2 separate regions of the Homo sapiens genome follow, and region 1 is linked to region 2. The links come from fine-mapping of genetic effects on gene expression. Tissue or cell type: testis. Region 2 holds a variant in brackets; the other region holds the start of a gene. All regions are shown on one strand. Distances are from middle to middle.

Region 1 (5,387 bases), 93 kb before region 2:
GGAAGTAAACTCATTTTTATACTTGGTTAGCTAAAGAATCACAGCCTAGGAACATGTAAAACCTTTATATCATTCTAAGGCATAACTAGATAAATAATATTACAATTTGAGAAAGTATTTCTACTTTAAAGGGTGAGGCTTTATCAAAAGCAAAACTATTAAACAAACAAATACTAAGGAATAGAAGAAAGAGCTACACAAGTTTATTCATTTTCCCAATATGAGAGGGAAATAGGAAAATGTGGAATGGACAGCACTGAGAATTAAGCAGTGTCCTTGCAAACACAGTTCACATCTGAAAACCAACAGCAAAACCACAGAAAGTCACTGCTGCCTCCCACCAGCGATGAAAAGCTGTATTTATTTCCCAACAGGCAGATAAGTCTCCTTGACAGACACTAATATGGCCTACACATTCATATATTATGAGGTGAAAAGCAACTATTTTAAAAACTTCAATCTGGACATAAAATACCAACTGTGATCATTAAAGCATCTCCATTAGTCCTTGACCTAATTTTGCATATCAAATACAGAAGTTCTTGGTTTTACAGGGACTCAACTGTGGTAGATAGACAGTTTATTAAAAGACCTGGGTCGGCGGTGCTAATCAACATGCTGTTTCACCCTTACTTTATAAGTGATCACAAACAAAAATTTAGTCACAGCCTGCTAAATAATTTTAAGTTTCAAAGAAAATTTATACTTCCTCAAAAATAGTTTACTATTAAGTGTGGAGAGCATGAGAAATCCAAAATCTTTCTTACATTACCTAAGTGCTCTAATCCGAAAAGATAAAATTTACTCTCAAGATTTCAAAATAAAAAATCAAACTCAGCTAATTACTAATTTTTTTTAATAATCTGCAAAATTTTTTCATTAATTCTGTTATTTGAGTTTTCCAGCTACATCTGAAAAACTGGGGATGAAAATTCAGACACTAAACTCAGAAGCTAATTTCACTTATATTGTTACATCCTTTCACAAATTAGCATGCTAATGTGATCACAAGGAAAACAGCACAGCAGCCCTGAAGCTCACTTTTACCTCAATTTTACTTAGAGGGTGAGGTAAAGATGAATACCAGGCAAACATTTCAATTCTTAATAAATCAAACCCCAAAATGAAGTTAGTGGTATCTTAGGAAAATACCATGTTTACTGAAATTGCCAAATATAACTGTCCCATGTTGCCAAAGTCAGCAGTATACATTAATCTAAAGACAGTTGTGTGTAATCTTGGGAAAGGCAAACTAGCTGTGCTACGGGCACTGAATGGACTCTGCTGTGGTTGAAATATTTCAGAGGTGATACAAATTTTTAAAATCTTTTCCTGCAAAAGGTTTTTGGTAACCTGTAACACTTTTTCAACTACCATATTTCTTTATCTCATAAGGCAAAAACACACCGCCTCACGATTCCAGGACATGTAAGCAGTTTAACATCACTCACATTTTCAGGCATATAAATATAAAACTTCCAATAGAGTATTTTAGAACAAAGCTTTCTGCGTGGGTATGCATTTGCAAAATAAAGGTAGAGTTATTCCGACAGATTTAAATGTGCACCCAGTGATCAAATGGAGTTAGAAATTCTGTTTTGACAGTTACTTGTAGAACAGCATTTTCAACAGCGATTAATTCAGAGCTGGGTAGTAATACCATCAAAACTAAGTTCCAACTGTTGAGTAATAATATAGTTGGAAGGAAGTGTAGTCCATAAGCTAATACATGGTACCTTTAGATATGTTATAATACGTCACATTCAAAAGGTTACTCGTCTGGCAGCAAGTCTTACGTTCATAAAAGTGCCAATAAAAATGTTTTGCCATTTCAAAAAGTGATTTTTTATGAAAACAGGTGCTCTCCAAAGATGGCAATCATTTATTAAACTACTACAGTTCAAAAGGAAGATGATATAATAGATCAATACACCAGCTAAGGATCATGCAAGACTGTCCTATGAAAAACAGCATTCTGGATTACATAACACAGATAGTGAGGGATTACACCACATGCCCCTGCTGAGCTAGACTTTTGATCTTCTGTATGATTCTATAACTGAGGCCACTCAAATTTGAAGAGTATAAAATATGAGGGTCTCAGTTCAACCACACATTTCTGAAAACAGCCGTCTTGAAAACAATAAAAGAATAAAGTTAAAATTTTACCTTCCCCCGCAACACACACACAATTTTTCTATTCTGAAAAACACAGTTGTTCAGATACTTTCTTAACCTCCTTGGAGCCTCCCCAGGTAAAGTCACCAGTTGCTTTTCCTGGTCATGTTTACATTATAAATCTGATTTCTCTTTAAGGGGAAATTCAATATCATTTTAAAATGATACATAGCTGCCTATGTTTGAATAACGTTATTTCCAGACAAAAAGAATTATTAAACAGCTATCTCCACATACCTATAACTTAAATATATAGACCACTAAGTATTACGTATATGGAAAAAAAAACACCTTTCCTGAATATTCTGGCCAAAATTAAATTTCAAATACATGTTTTAGAACAATAGCTAGAATCACTACAGAAGTTAAGAGGAAAAAAAGTTGGAAGAGTAGGGTCATCTTTCAGATATATCCATATTTATGGAAACTATAGTGGGCAGTTGTATTTCTCTCTAGGAAAATGCTAGTTTTATGATTCTAGATAAAGTTGCACTTAAACACACTTGGAAATTAGAGAATTCCATATTTCCATACTTCGATTCAGTACCATATACGAAGTCTACACTCAGAAGTATTGTACTATACAGAGTCTAATTGGTTAAAGCAAAAGCAACTTTAAAATTCTGAAAATAAGGATTTCCTTCACTAACAGGCTTTTAGGAGGCCCGAACCCTGCCCCCAATGAGTGCTAAGCCTGTCAGTGTTGTTTTAAGTGGAAACGGTCAATCATTTCTATGATTTCCCCAGAAGAGGCAAGAAGATCCACACGCATACACATTTACATGCGTTGCACGGTGCCAACTATTTCCAACCAAAATAATCATATACACGTCGAGCCGAGCTATTTCTAGCCCAGAAGAGGGTGAACGTCTGGAGAGAGTCTGAGGAAACCCAGCAGGCGATGACTGCAGGGGAAGGGGGATGGCGTCTGGGTCCCCTGCCTCCCGCGCGCACAGGGCGCCTGGCACCCGGCACCTGCACGGGGTCCCCGCTGGGCATCCGGGTGCGCGCGCGCGCGCGTCCGGGACGCACCCGCGGAAAGCAAACAAGCCCTGAGGGCCAAGGCGGGCGGGAGCATCCTCGGGCGGGACCCGAAATGCCTTTTCCTACCTGTCACTTTGCCTGGAGCTGCTGCCGGGGATGCGGCGACGGCCGCTGCCTGGAGACCCAGTGTGTACGCGCGTGTGTGTGCGCGCCCGTGTGTGCGTGTGCGTGTGTGTGTCTGTGTGTGAGAGATCTTGTTGGCGGTGCAGCTCACTTACTGCTCCCGGCGCGGCGCCACCACCCCCTCCTCGCCATAAAGAGCCGCCGCCAAGCCCCCTCCCGGCGCACCCCAGTCCCGCCCTCCCGCCTGCCTCCGCACCCCCTCCCTGGCCTCCCCGCCTCCCCGTCTCCGCGCCGCGCGGTCCTTACCTCAGTTGAGGGCGGGGGTCTCCGCCGTGGCTCCCCAGCGAGCCCACGGGGCAGCGCCGACCCGCCCGCCCACCGCCGGGCCCTGCGCGTCCCCCGCTCCGGGCCCCGCCGCCCCTCAGCGGCCAGCCGCTTCCTCCTCCCCTGCCCCCGAGCCTCCCTCCTCGTTCTCGCCTCCCGGCTCCAGAGCCCGAGCTGTCGCCTCGCAGCCCCAACCTGCCCAGGCTACGGAGCATGCCCAGTGCGGCGCGCCGGGCTGGGCTGGGGGTGGGCAGGGGCCGGGCCGGCCGCCCAGTTGCCGCGAGCCCGCAGGGCGAGGAGTGGGCGCCGACTGGGTCGGGGGCGCAGCCTCGCGAGCCGGGGGCCGAGCAGCCGAGGCAGGTGGTGGGCAGCGCCAAGAGGAGGTGGGTGGGGCATCCGGGGAAGCCGGCCCGCGGCGCGCTCCTCTGGGGTCTCCCTGGCGGCTCCCCGCGGCATGTGCCCCATGCCCAAGGGTCGGGGGCGCACGGGATGGCGCTGGGCGCAGAACCCAGGGAGCGGGGGCAGAAAAGCGGCACCCTCCTCGGATGGGAGACCCGCAGCCCGCCGTGGGCCGTGTGGAGGGGCTCAGGACTGGCCAGAACGGGGCCCCCAAAGCCGTTGGCTGGGTGGGGGACGTGCTTATTTGTTTATATTCGGTTTCATAAACCCATACAGCGCCTACAATGCGTCCTGCAGTGTTCTAAACGCTTTTTATTCATTTAATCCCTAAAACAATCTTCCAAAGAGTACTACTGCCTCTTTTTATTTCGCGGGTCTTACACAGAGCCACAGAGATTAAGTGGTTCCAAAAAGTCTTCCCACAAGTGCAACCTCAGACATGCAAATCCCCCAGACTTTGGTCCCTGGGATGCTGGGGTGCTGCTCCAGCCAGTTCCTGGCTTTTCCCGGCCCTACAACGGCCCCCAGGTGCCTCCGAGTCACACTCACACCCAGGCCCTAATGGTGTTCGGTCTGGCATCACCCTTGTGTGGACCCTCACAACGTGCTGCTCCCGAACTCCGGAGGGCTCCCTCCTCCCCACTCCGCCTCCTCCTTCTCCCGGCCGGCGGCCACCAAAACCCGGAGACGTGGCACCTGCGCATTGGGGACTGGGGCCATGCTCGCAGCTGCACTAGGCATGCTCAGCCGCCTGAGCCGGTCCGGCTGGCCAGGAGGAAAGAAAGGGCCAGACGGGGCGTGAAGTGTAAGAAATGGAGGGGGAATGTGTGTGCAAACAATAGTCCAGGCTCTGATGGGCAGGGGCAGTTGTAGATGCAAAAGACTCATTCCCCTGGCACATCCTGGCCATTTCCAGGCAGGGCTAAGAGATGGGGGTAATAATCATCAAAAGTTTAACCAACTGGGCATCCTTAAGCAAGAGGGGGCTGAGGCCCCACTGACCACTCCCCAGCTCAACTACTAAGCTGTAATTTTAGCTGAGCCTGGAAAAAAAGCTCCTCAGCAGCTGAAGCTGTCTGCCTGTGAAGAAGCCAAGAAAAATATCCCAGACCAAGTTTCCCCACAAGATTGGAAAGGAAAGATAGATCCCAGGGAAAGGCTGGTGGCTCTTCACTGTTAGGGATATTAAAGATGTGGTGATTTTGGCTGGGCGCGGTGGCTCACGCCTGTAATCCCAGCACTTTGGGAGGCCAAGGCGGGTGGATCATCTGAGGTCAGGCGTTCGAGACCAGCTTGGCCAACATGGTGAAACCTCATCTCTACTAAAAATACAAAAAAAAAAAAAAATTAGCCGGTCGTGGTGGTGGGCACTTGTAATC
Region 2 (5,387 bases):
CATTAGTGCAAATACCTAATGCATGTGGGGCTTAAAACCTAGATGAAGGGTTAATAGGTGCAGCAAACCACCATGGCACATGTACACCTATGTAAAAAACCTGCACATTCTGCACATGTATCCCAGAACTTAAAGTAAAAAAAAAAAAAAGAATAGAAGGAAATACTTCCCACCAAACTCAAGATTAATGAATGTTACATTTAATCCCAATTTCAGCATGTGGCTAACTCCTAGAAACTAGAGTCCACTTGAAATCATGTTTCTATGATCCCCTCAATAAAATAATATAAAAATAATTAATAAGGTACCCACTTGCCCCAAATGAATCAAATTTACATTATTGAGTTTTGCTTCTTTTTTCCTTTTATTCTTCTTTTGTGAAAGTGCATATTAAAGAAGAAATTTCATTTCAATTAGTCAGGAAAATATAGGCAGTGGTTAACCAAGTATGGCCGATGGGCCAAATCCAGCCAGCCCTGTGCTTTGTAAATAAAGTTTATTAGAACACAATCATGCACATTCATTTACATATTTTCTATGACTTGAATAGTTGTGATCAACTGAGACTGAATGGCCCACAAAGCTGAAAATATTTACTATCTGCCCTTTATGTGAAATTTTTTTGACCCCTGATATAGGAGATTCGGGGATGTAGGGTGTCACTACAGAGGGCTTCCAAATATTTAAATTCGTAGTTACAACAAGCCACAGACCCTTTTAGCAACTGTATACTCAAGTCCTCATTTCATGTTCATGAGGGTTGTAGTAGTTATTTTGGTAATTTTCTGAATGGGCCATAGTACGAGTGATCTGATTTTTGTGTTAGCTACTTGGGCACCAACCCATTGGTTGAGGTGTAGGGTGTTGTATTTCTCAATGGATGAATCCACGTTACTTATTTACTAGATGATTGTCACAGGGGGATCTTGGTTAAACATACCATTGCATTCTGATAAAATTATCTCACATCCAATTATACCTTTTTAAATGATGTGTCAATAAAATGTATCAAGCATTGAAATGGATCATGGAATAAGCAATTCTCTCTTTTTCTTAAAAGCTCTTGATATTTGAACATTGCTTGTATTTTCTTAATACCAAGAAATAATTTCAGATGGGTTCTTTAGTGTATTCATATGGAAGGAGGGCAGGCAGCTGTTTGGAGGTCCACCATTTGTCACTAAGATGATTGTCCTGTTATTTCATGGCATTTTTAAATTCTGATTTTTCTTTTCTGATTCGGGGAAAGTCAGTGATAGAATTATATTATGATGCTTCTGTGCAAATGCACAGGATGTTGTCTCAAGTTATCTATAATAGTTTTGAATACTGTGCTTGAGAGGATTTAAGAACTGTAGAAAACATAATTTTAAAAAATTTTAGGACCCCAGTCTTCTTTAACAAATGTGCTATATAGTACTTATATATCATAGACTTATGGCTTTACTATACTTAATAGTTTATCACACTATTAGTATTATCATGTGTAATATAACATTAAGTATCCCTAATATAAATGTGTATATATGTATGGGTGTGTATAAACTGTATGTGCTTATAGGTGTATGTTTATTGTACAATGTGTGAAAAGCAATAATCTATAAACAAAATTGATGGTAAGACCTTGACATAGGAAACTGCCTGTCAAGGTCAGATGTTTCTTTTTTATGTAACTGAACTTGGTTATCCTGACTCCGCTATCTTTGCGAAGCTTAGAAAATGCTAATTGTGTAAAATGAAACATTCATTACTCTGCTTGCTTAGAACTTTTAGAGATAGATTTCTTCCTTTCTTTTACATTGTATTCTCAACTTTTTACTTTGACTAACTCTCCAAATCATCATACATTGCACCCATCCCAACTGTCCCAACTGTCCATTCCCAACTTTTTCAATGCTGTCTTCTATGAAGCTAGCCTTGGAGGCAGCATTCTCATGAACTCCCCTGGTTGGCAATGAGAGTATGCCGGCCTCGTCCCAAACACAGTGTCCTTTGGTCCCAATCTCTTATTTCTATCTGTTGAGTATTTCCTAATAATTCATGACTAGCCCAAACCCACCCCCACTGACAGAAGAGTTACTCAAACACAAGCTGAATGTTGATGTTGTCTTTGTTTTCTATATTGCTCTTCTAAAGAACGTACCTCCCGACCGGGCACGGTAGCTCATGCCTGTAATCCCAGCACTTTGGGAGGCCAAGGTGGGTGGATCATTTGAGGTCATGAGTTTGAGACCAGCCTGACCAACATAGTGAAACCTTGTATCTACTAAAAATACAAAATTAGCCAGGCGTGGTGGTGC[G/C]TGCCTGTAATCTCAGCTATGTGGGAGTCTGAGGCTGGAGGATAGCTTGAACCTGGGAGTCAGAGGTTGCAGTGACGAGATCATGCCATTGAACTCTAGCCTGGGCAACCAGAGTGAAACTCTGTCAAAAAAAAAAAAAAAAAGCTATACTAGAGGTCCGAGGGAGGTGCGTTTTTGTTTGTTTGTTTTTGTTTGTTTGTTTGTTTTTGAGACAGGGTCTTACTCTGTCGCCTAGGCTGGAATGCAGTGACTCGATCTCGGCTCACTACAACCTCTGCCTCCTGGGTTTAAGCCATTCTTGTGCCTCAGCCTCCAGAGTAGTTGGGATTACAGGCATGTGTGCCACCATGCCCGGCTAATTTTTGTATTTTTAGTAGAGACAGGGTTTCGCCACGTTGGCCAGGATGGTCTCGAACTCCTGACCTCAAGCAGTCCACCTGCCTCGGCCTCCCAAAGTGCTGGGATTACAAGCATGAGCCTCTGCACACAGCCTAACATAGTTTCTTTAACTTGTATGTTCATTTCCTCCCCGACTCCCAAACTGTGAGCTGACTGAGTGGAAGAACTGTCTCAATTATCTTTGTATGCCCCCAGGGGGATGTCTCTGCACACAGTTGGGGACAAGTGAACATTTGTAGAATGAAAAAATAATTCAAAATAACTTTTAAGCCTCTTATATTGGAAAGAAAGTGTAAGCAGTGGGTTTTCTTCCATGCCAATTTGACTGACCCAGTCCCTGATGCTAAAATCTAGCAAAGGTCATGGCATTTCCTAGCTGGAGAGGAATTTTAGGCCATGCACTCTAGTCATTTCAGTTAACCATCAAGAAATGTGAGACTAAGAGAGGAAAAGAAAAATAAACGTTTATACAGTACCAACTGTATGCTAGATCAGTGCTTTGCAAATGTCAAATCTTCATGGTAACCTCTTGCGTACTCACCACTTGCTATGAGGAATAGAAGCATAAAGTGAGAAATCATGGCATGGTTGACTTCAAGTGACAGGTGGAGCCTAATTACAGAGCTGAGCAGAGTGGGTTCTGTGGAGCCTCAAAGCCATGCTCATTTCCTTGCATCCTTCCCAGGCAGCCCCTGTCTTGTCTTAGTTTGGGCTGCTATAACAAAGTACCACCTACTGGGTGGCTTATGAACAACAGAAATTTATTTCTCATGGTTCTGGAAACTGAGTGGCTTATGAACAACAGAAATTTATTTCTCATGGTTCTGGATATTGGAAGTCTGAGAGCAGAGTGCTAACATGTTAGGATTCTGGTGGGAGCCCTCTTCTGGGACTGCTGACTTTTCTTTGTGTCCCTAAAGTAGCAGAGAGAGGATGAGGCAACTCTTTGGTGTCTCTTTTATATAGGCACTAATCAATTCATGAGGGCTGGGTCCTCATGACCCAAACACCTCCCAAAGGCCCCACCATCTAATATCACCACATTGGGGGTTAAGATTTCAACGTATTAATTTGATGGGGATTAGTGGGGATACAAACTTTCAGTTCATAGTAGCCCCTAAGTACAAGAACATTGTGTTGCCTGATATTAACTTAAAATCACATAATATCTAACTAACCATTTATGAGAAATACAGAAATAGAGAAGTATGTCACAACATATGACAAGGAAATCATCAGCCATATCCAGAATTAGGGAAATACTACAGGGCAAATTTATGTGTTATTTCTTCAACACATAAATGGCGTTTAAAAATGGATAGGGGCTGGGCGTGGTGGCTCATGCCTGTAATCCAGCATTTTGGGAGGCCAAGGTGGGCAGATTGCATGAGGCCAGGAGTTCGAGACCAGCCTGGCCAACATGGTGAAACCCCGTCTCTACTAAAAATGCAAAAATTAGCTGGGTGTGGTGGTGCATGTCTGTAATCCCAGCTACTTGGGAGGCTGAGGCATGAAAATTGCTTGAGCCTGGGAGGCAGAATTTGCAGTGAGCTGAGATGGCATCACTGCACTCCGGCCTGGGCAATGGAGCGAAACTGTCTAAAAAAAAAAAAAAAAGATAGGGACCATTATATAATACATGACTTATAACTTGTGAACCAACTGTAAAAAGAAAATAATTTGAGAAAACTGGGGAAGTTGAACATGAACTGGTACTAAATATTGTTACTGGTACTAAGAATTGTTGTGAGTTCTTTTTGGTATAAAACTATTATTTTGGTTATGTTTTAAAAATAATGTGTTACAGATACATGTTTAAATGATTATAGGTGGAAAGATATAGTGTCTGTGACTTACTTAAAAACACTCAGATGTGTTCTTCTCTTTGTACAATTAAAAGCATTTGTTGTTGCTGCTGTTGGTATTTGGTTTTTGTTGTTGTTTTTGTTTGTTTTTTAGCCATAATACCCAGAGCCATTAAATTGGTCTGGCTTTAAGTTCAGATACCAGTTCTACCATGGATTCTGAGGCAAGATGAAAATTCCTCATATGTGTTTAATATGACTGCATGTTACAAAAAAATCGAATTTCTCTAAAATCAAAAGTGTTTGTGGACTGATGCACTCAAGTGTAATGGAAACACTCCACTCCTCCCCTGGGAGGCAGCTGTCATTGTGGGGCCACAGTGGCCCATGCTCACTGCAAACCCTCCAAGGTTACCTGAGATGTCCCATTTGGAAGCATCTCTTTAACCCAAAGCAAGAATGTCTCCCTTCTATAGTGTGGTCATAGTGTCAATGAAAAAAGCCAAACTCTCAATCTGAGCCAAATATGATAACTGTGGCCCAAGGCACAGTCTCATGAGGTCCTGAGAAAATGTGCCCAACATGTTTGGGTTACAGCTTGGTTTTATATGCTTTAGGGAGACATAAGGTATCAATAGATACATGTGAGGTATACATTGGTCCAGAAAGGTGGGACGACTTGAAGGAGGGAGACAACTTGAAGGGAGGGGAGTTCTGATTGGCAATTCATTAGTTGAAAGAATTAAGTTATTATCTAAAGAGACCTGAAATCGATAGAACAGAGTGTCTAGGAAAGGATAAGGGATTGTGGAGACTGAGGTTATTATTATGTAGATGAAGTCTCATAGGTGGCTGCCCTTAGAGACAATTGATGGGGTAAATG

Which allele goes with the higher level. Alleles are on the strand shown, and positions count from the first base shown. SD is a standard deviation of normalised expression in the study named.
For the expression in testis of the gene that starts at base 3,408 in region 1, C is the high allele of the variant in region 2 and G is the other (moderate effect, 0.40 SD a copy in GTEx).

Evidence for each region. PIP is the estimated chance that this variant, and not a neighbour inherited with it, causes the effect.
Region 1: PLCB4 starts here. The variant in region 2 is fine-mapped to the expression of PLCB4 in testis (GTEx, PIP 0.99).

Annotation. Positions count from the first base shown.
Region 1 is chr20:9,067,108-9,072,494 of GRCh38, reverse strand. It overlaps PLCB4 (phospholipase C beta 4), which reads right to left and starts at 3,408. Exons shown (of 40, transcript NM_001377142.1): 1 at 3,289-3,408.
Region 2 is chr20:8,974,527-8,979,913 of GRCh38, reverse strand. No RefSeq gene overlaps it. Among named protein-coding and RNA genes, the nearest start is that of PLCB4, 92 kb to the left of the region's middle. The variant G/C (reference allele first, on the strand shown) is at 2,301.